Homo sapiens: one gene and its partner. The protein of the gene in region 2 purifies or fractionates together with the protein of the main gene of each other region. This does not show direct contact. Each region holds a gene or a part of one and is shown on either strand. Other genes may lie near its edges.

The links.
Region 1: the proteins of CD300LB (region 2) and DDX19B purify together in Homo sapiens (affinity purification with mass spectrometry; one large-scale study listed by BioGRID and IntAct). This does not show direct contact.

Annotation. Positions count from the first base shown.
Region 1 is NC_000016.10:70,302,103-70,305,918, reverse strand, and holds part of DDX19B (ATP-dependent RNA helicase DDX19B), read right to left. Parts: intron 1-3,816. UniProt on the Homo sapiens protein: ATP-dependent RNA helicase involved in mRNA export from the nucleus.
Region 2 is NC_000017.11:74,521,439-74,525,254, forward strand, and holds part of CD300LB (CMRF35-like molecule 7 precursor), read right to left. Parts: intron 2,214-3,816; coding exon 2,141-2,213; intron 1,463-2,140; coding exon 1,300-1,462; 3' UTR 72-1,299; coding exon of another isoform or gene 1-71. UniProt on the Homo sapiens protein: Acts as an activating immune receptor through its interaction with ITAM-bearing adapter TYROBP, and also independently by recruitment of GRB2.

The DNA of each region.
Region 1 (3,816 bases), on a different chromosome or scaffold from region 2:
CATGGTGGTGGGCGCCTGTAGTCCCAGCTACTCGGGAAGCTGAGGCAGGAGAATGGCGTGAACCCAGGAGGTGGAGCTTGCAGTGAGCCGAGATTGCGCCACTGCACTCCAGCCTGGGCGACAGAGTGAGACTCTGTCTCAAAAAATAAATACATAAAAATTTAAAAAATAATAATTAAAAAAACAAAAAACCTCTCAGAACTACTTGAAACACATATTTATCTCTACGTTGACTAATGATGTGTTTTTTTTCTAAGTGTATATTGTGCCTTGAGATATTGGCTAATAAAAATATGAAGCCAGCACACACAAGCACAGGAAAGCATTATTTCATTTTTATCTCAGCCTTTATTACTTTTTTATTTGCTTTACAATGTACATAATATATTTAATAAAACAGTAAAGTATGCAATTTCTAAATAGATATTTACATATTGAGAGTGAATGATCAAAAGTTTCTTTGCAACAAATAACAAACTACACAGTTCATTTACTCAGTTAACAATGCCTGCCAGGTTAGGCATGAGAAATGCTCAAATGGATAAGGACCACAGTTAAGGGAGGGGATGCCATAATGAAAACAGAAGCATTAAGTGGAAGCAGGTATTCTGGGTCCTGAGACCTCCCTCACCCTTTCCTCCACCTAGATTCCAGAACACTGAGTCAGACCTCCACCATCTAGGCAGGAGTTTAGAGGATCCCTCTCTGCAAAATCTGGCCAGACCGGGAGGAAAGTTCTCAGGATGCTGACATAGACCACTAAAGATATATAGTTAAGGTCAGAATAGACAAGCCCCACTCATGTGTTTACAGCTTCCACTCAACTTTTTAGTCACTCACTCTTAAATATGAGTGGCCAAGCAAGGATTACAGACATCTGAGAAACAGTCATCACAAAAAAGTAGACACTGAAATATATGGATAAAACACGCCTCACATGAAACAGAGACTGAGCAGAGAGAAGAAGAAAAATATCCTCCAAATGATGAGGATATTATGACCATGAAAGCCGTACAGGGTATTGTCTGTAAAAAAGGAACAGTAAAGGAAGAAGAAAAAAGTTCCTGAAATTAAAAATAAGAAAGTAGAAGTGAAAATGAAATATACCAGACAGTACTTGAGAAAATCTCCCAGGAAATATAGAAAGAAAGAAAGAAAAAAAAAAGAGACAAAGATGAAAAACAGAAGAAAAAAGAAAACCAAAGGACTTTTAAACGAATGGTGCTGGAACAATTAAGACAGCTCTGGCCAGGAGTGGTGGTTCACGCCTGTAATCCCAGCACTTTGGGAGGCCAAGGCGGATGGATCACCTGAGGTCAGGGGTTTGAGACCAGCCTGGCCAACATGGTGAAACCCTGTCTCTACTAAAAATACCAAAAGTAGCCAGGCTTGGTGGCAGGCGCCTGTAATCCCAGCTACTCGGGGGACTAAGGCAGGAGAATCGCTTGAACCTGGGAGGTGGAGGTTGCAGTGAGCTGAGATCACGCCACTGCACTCCAACCTGGGGGACAAGAGCAAGACTTTGTCTCAAAAAAAAAAAAAAAAAGACATCTCTGTGAAAAAGATGAACAGATGAACCTCGGCCAGGCACGGTGGCTCACGCCTGTAATCAAGCACTTTGGGAGGCCGAGGCGGGCAGATCATGAGGTCAGCAGTTTGAGACCAGCCTGGCCAATATGGTGAAACCCTGTCTCTACTAAAAATACAAAAATTAGCTGGGCATAGTGGTGGGTGCCTGTAATCCCAGCTACTAGGGAAGCTGAGGCAGGAGAATTGCTTGAACCCCGGAGGCGAGGGGTTGCAGTGAGCTGAGATTGCGCCACTGCACTCCAGCCTGGGAGACAGAGCCAGACTCCGCCTCAAAAAAAAAAAGATGAACCTCAATGCATACCCCTTATTAGAAAAAATTTAACTCAAAATGGAAAATGGATTACAGACATAAATGTAAAATTTAAAACTATAAGACTTCTAGAGAACACAGGAGAAAATCTTTGTGGCCTTGGATAAGGTGTATATCTTGGAACACAAAAAGAACTAATCATCTAAAAATTGATAAATTAGGCCGGGCGCGGTGGCTCACGCCTGTAATCCCAGCACTTTGGGAGGCCGAGGTGGGCGGATCCCAAGATCGGGAGGTCGAGACCATCCTGGCTAACATGGTGAAACCCCATCTCTACTAAAAATACAAAAAAAAATTAGCCTGGCGTGGTGGTGGGCGCCTGTAGTCCCAGCTACTCGGGAGGCTGAGGCAGGAGAATGGCGTGAGCCTGAGAGGTGGAGCTTGCAGTGAGCCGAGATGGCACCACTGCACTCCAGCCCAGGCGACAGAGCAAGCCTCCGTCTCAAAAACAAACAAACAAACAAAAATTGATAAATTAGGTTAATCAAAGTTGAAAATGTCTATTATTTGAAAAGTACTGTTGAAAAAAGACAAGTTGTAGTTTGAGAGAATATATGCAAAACATATCCGATAAAGGACTTATCATGCCTGTAATCCATCTCAGCACTCTGGGAGGCCCAGGTGGGCGGATTGCTTGAACCCAGGTGTTCCAAGACCAGCCTGGGCAACATGGCAAAACCCTGTCTCTACAAAAAATACATACATTAGCCAGATGTGGTGGCGCATGCCTGTGGTCCCAGCTACTCTGGAGACAGGGTGGGAGAATCCCTTGAGCCCAGGAGGTGGAGGTTTCAGTGAGCCAAGATCATGCCACTGCACTCTAGCCTGACTCTAGTCTGGGTGACAGAGTGAGACCCTGTCTCAAAAAAAACAAAAACAAAAACAAAAAACAGAACTTCTATCCAGAATATATAAAGAAACTTCCCAACTAAAAACAAAAACAATCCTACTTTAAAAATGGGCAAAAGGTTTGAAAAGCCACTTCAAAGAAGTTACATACATGGCAAATAAGCACATGAAAAGATTGTCAACATCATTAGTCATTAGGGAGATATATAAGTTAAAACCACAATGAGACACCAGCATGTACCTATTAGAATGAAGGAAACTGACAATACTGTGCAGGGAAGGGTGTGGGGCAGTTGAAGCTCTCATCCATTGCTGTTGGAAAAGCAGAATGATACACTTTGGAAAATAGTTTGGCACATAACTTACAAAGTTAAACACATACGACATAACACAGTAAATCCTACTCTTTGATATTGACTTTACCCAAGAGAAATGCAAACATATGTCCATACAAAAATCTGTACCTTAATGTATAGAGTAGCTTTCTTCATATTGTCTCAGACTGAAAATTACTCAAGTGTCCATCAATAGAAGAATAAGCAAACTGTGTATATATATCCACAGTGGAATTCTACTCAGCAATAAAAAGGAATGAACTACTGATACATGCAACTTGGTTGAATTCTAAATGCATAATACTAAGTGGAAGAAGCCAGACTTTTCAAAAGGTTATATATTATATATATGATTCCATTTTATGACATGTTGGAAAAGGCAAAACTATAATGACAGAAAACATATCAGCAGCTGCCAGAGAAGGGTGAGGAGAGGGAGTGAACTACAAGAAGTTGTAGTTCTTTGTAGAGAGGGTTTATGTGTTGCCTGTGGTGGTAGTTACACAACTGTATGCTTTTGTCAAAATTCATAGAACTGTACACTAACAAAGTTTAATTTTACTCTGTGTAAATTATACCTCCATAAACCTGACTTTTAAAAAAATTAAAGGGCTGGCCAGGTGTGGTGGCTCACGCCTGTAATTCTAGGACTTTGGGAGGCTGAGGCATGCGGATCACTTGAGGTCAGGAGTTCAAGACCAGCCTGGCCAACATGGTGAAACCCCACCTCTA
Region 2 (3,816 bases):
GGATCTTAGCCGGGCTCGAACTCTCCTCTCTGGCCATTATGGAATTTTCAGGCCCATCATTGGCCAGAGACCTAAATTCAGTTCAAAGTCAGAGAAAGTTTCTCTTTGGCTGAAGGACAAGAAGAGGGGAGGCTCTGGGTGCCATGCTAGGGACCAGAGGGTCCCCTCTCCTTTATCCACTGCTGACAGTCAGTACTCCCTATTAGAACCAAGAGCAGGTTGGAGGCGTCCTCATGGGTGTTCAAAGGGCAACATGCCGAACATGTGTGGTGTGTTTGCTTGTGGGCAGGTGGGGGCGGGAGCACATCTCACATGGGAAGGTCCCTTTGGTGTGAGGGTCCCTCAACCATACAGCACAAAGTGACCACATTCAAGGGCCTCATCGCCGTGGGTGAAGCCTGTGAGGAGACAGAACCACTTCCCTAGGACAGTTTTCATTAGTAACATGATTTCAACATCACCGAAAAGGGAGGGTGCCATTTCCTGCGATGGTTTTCGTTACTGCCCTCCCCACCTGGAGGTGGTTCTTGAGGCCTGACAGGCTCTTTTGGGGAGGAGACCCAAGCTGTCATGCTGAGGAGGCTCCCAAGCTGCAGCCCCTCGGAGGTGGGGGAATAGGCAGGGAGCTTGGGGAGCTAGGAGGAGGAAGAGGTGGGAGGGGGAGGACAAGCACCGGGCCGGGCCAGGGAGGTTCCCATTGCCTCCTCAGCCCTGTGGACTCAGAGCCATGTCCTCCCTGGGGACAGGGTCCATCCAGCCCCTCATGCCCTAGAACCAGGAACTCATCCCAGAATCACCCTCCTTGTGTGTGGGATCAGAGAGGTTTCCTATGAACATAAGTCATTAAAACCCAACTTTGCTAGAAAAAAAAAAATTTAAAAACACGGATATATCAGGTTCTCAGGCAAAGACGGTGTTGAGTTGGTCTCCGGAATGATGGAAGTCTAGGGCTGGGGGGGTCTCCCCCAACCTCTTTCTGTACTTTGGTCCCATGCTCTGTGCCCGAGTTATTCCAGCAGTGGGGACAGAGTCGTCCAGTGCTTGAGCTCCATCTCTACAGCTCCTGACCAAGAGAACAGGTGCTGGCACCCCAGGAGGTGATGGTGGCTCAGGAGAGGACCTGGCTAAGTCCCTGAGCTGTGCAGAACAGGGAGGTGCCCACCAGCTCCAAGGCCAGGGCGGAGGCCCAGGGCCCCTATCTCAGTCACTGCATCCCGAGGACTCGTAGATGTTCCTTCCACAGCCCGAGTCTCTTCTGGAAACGTGGCCAGGGCAGGAAGGCTCTGCAGATCCATCTCTCTAAGTGGCCATGTCTTTAGTCAGAGGTTCGGAGAAGTTCATGTAGATAGGCTGTTCCCCTGGCTCCTCAGGGACCCTCTGAGACCCCTTCAACCAGAGGATGGCAGTGACCAAGATGAGCAAGATGGGCACCTTCACAAATACCAGGAGCATGTAGTGGTTCCTGGGGAAGGGGATGCAGTGGTCAGAGCCCTGGGCATCCCCAGGCCATGTCACTCCCATCCCCTGACCCTGTGAGCCACCAGCCAAAGCCTGTGACCCTGGGCCGGGCAGCCCCACTCTGAAGATTCCTGTAAACCTCCTCCTTGGTTCAACCTCAAGGGGTCCTCCAACAGTCACCTTGGCTGGTTTTGCACGGGGCCCATCTTCCTTTCTAACATCACCTTCTGGGACCCTCTTTGCCCAAAGTACATCTCAGCTCAACAGAAGCGCCAGAGGTCACCAAATACAGGTTGTGTTTCCTGCCTCTGTTCCTGCTAATGCTAGCTCCAGGCTGGTAAATCACCCTTCCTGTTCTGTGTCCCTTGATGTCTTGCACCACAGAGGGTGGTATCTTATCTCCCCCTGGCACCCATTAGGCCACCAATGCAAGGTTGACTGATTGACTGGGAGAATGATGCTCACTGAGAAGAGTTCTGCAGAGCGGTTTTCTGGTGAGAGCTAGAGTGGGGAGATGGTGGATTGCAGTGATGGGGGCAGGAGAGAGATGGAGGGTGGGCTTGGGGCCTTGACTCTGGCTAGAACAGGTGCTGGCATTTGGTGACAGGCAGGAGTTCCCAGGCTTGGCTTCCCCTTAGGAGGGACCCCAGGTAGGGGCAGGAGAAAGAACCACATGACTCACCTCTTGTGGGAGCCGATGAACACTGCCATATTGCTGTTGGTAGGTGAGCTTGCTGTTGTGGAAGCCGCTCCCTCTAGACACAGGCAAAGTCAGCCATGGGTTATTAGCACAGTTGGGAGCTCATGCATGGGTCACAAAGCCACGCGACCCTGCCAGCCCTCACCAGAAGACCCTTTTCCCTGGAGTAGGAGGATTTTTCTCTCCTGCTACAGCCCCTCATGCTTCTACTGAGTCACTTCAATCTCAACACACAGACATTTTTCCTCATCATGTTCAGATGTGGCAAGAAAAATTAAAAATTAAACAGGAGTAAACACTGTAGTTTATTCTGGGAGAGAGAGGTTTTTTCATACTTTCTTTCCACCTATCCTGCAAGTGGGACTATTGGATGGGGAAATAAATTTCTGGTCTTTTCCACTGGAGTGGTGCCTGAGCAGGGCTTAAGGAGAGAAGATTCTGGAAATGGGCTGTCCAGAAATTGGGGTAGTCCAGAAAAAGGGAAAGGGGACTCCAGAAGGCTCATGAAGAAAAGGGCACACTCCAGTTAACTAGAGAACATCGACTATGAGAAACGGAACATTTTTAGGAGCAACCATATAGGCAATTTGTTGGGGGCAGTCTGGTCAGGGGGGCCCTGAGCCCAGCCCAGCACTGAGTATCCATGACCCAACAGTGATCTTTTATTTCAGTCCTCGGCCCCAGCAAATTTTTCTCAAAGGTCCCAGGCTGTCCAGGCACGGTGGTTCACGCCTGTAATCCCAGCACTTTGGAAGACCAAGGGAGGCAGATCGCTTGAGGCCAGGAGTTTGAAACCAGCCTGGGCAACATGGTGAAATCCCATCTCTACAAAAAATACAAAATGAACCAGGCGTGGTCATGTGCCCCTGTAGTCCCAGCTACTCAGGAAGCTGAAGTGGAAGGATTGATTGAGCCCAGGAGGTCGAGGCTGCAGTGAGTCAAGTTCACCCCACTGCACTCCAGCCTGGGCTACAGACTGAAACCCTGTCTCAAAAAACAAACAAAACAAAATAAAACAAAACAAAACAAAAAAGTCCCAGGCTTTGGCCACACTAGGTGGGCTCCTGTCTGAGCTGCAGGTAATTCCAATCACAACAGTTCCTATGGAGCCCCTGATCGTTTTACAGGCTGGTACCCCTGTAGATCCCCCACCCAAGACTCCGGAACATCTCTCTCCCTAAAGCTCCACACTGGCCACTGTTTTTTGTCTCTTTGTACCGCCTGCATGTCTTGCTCAATCCCCTCTCTGCCCCCATAGATATTCTGGGTTTCCCCTACTTGGCAGCCCTGGGGAAGTCTTGCTTGACCCTTTCTGGACTCCTCTTTACTCAGCTGCAGCCACTGTGTCCATGTGCCTCTTTGGTCCCAACCCCAACAGTACACAGGCTTGTTCTAAAGCCGGCATTGTCTATTTCCACATCACCACCAAATGGACCCGAGTGGACACTGAGCTGATGAAGTACTGAGTAGGGGTGTGCGGGTGGAAGTGGGGGTTGGGGGCTGCTTCCCAGACTCCAGCAACAGCAGCAGGATGACCCCAGAGTCTATCAGTAGAGTCCAAGGCATGGAGGAGAAGCCAGGGCACCCAGAGTGGTCCCTGACGTTGCCCGTGATGGAAGCCATCCTTTTGCTTTAAAGCGTCCACTGTCACCCATGCA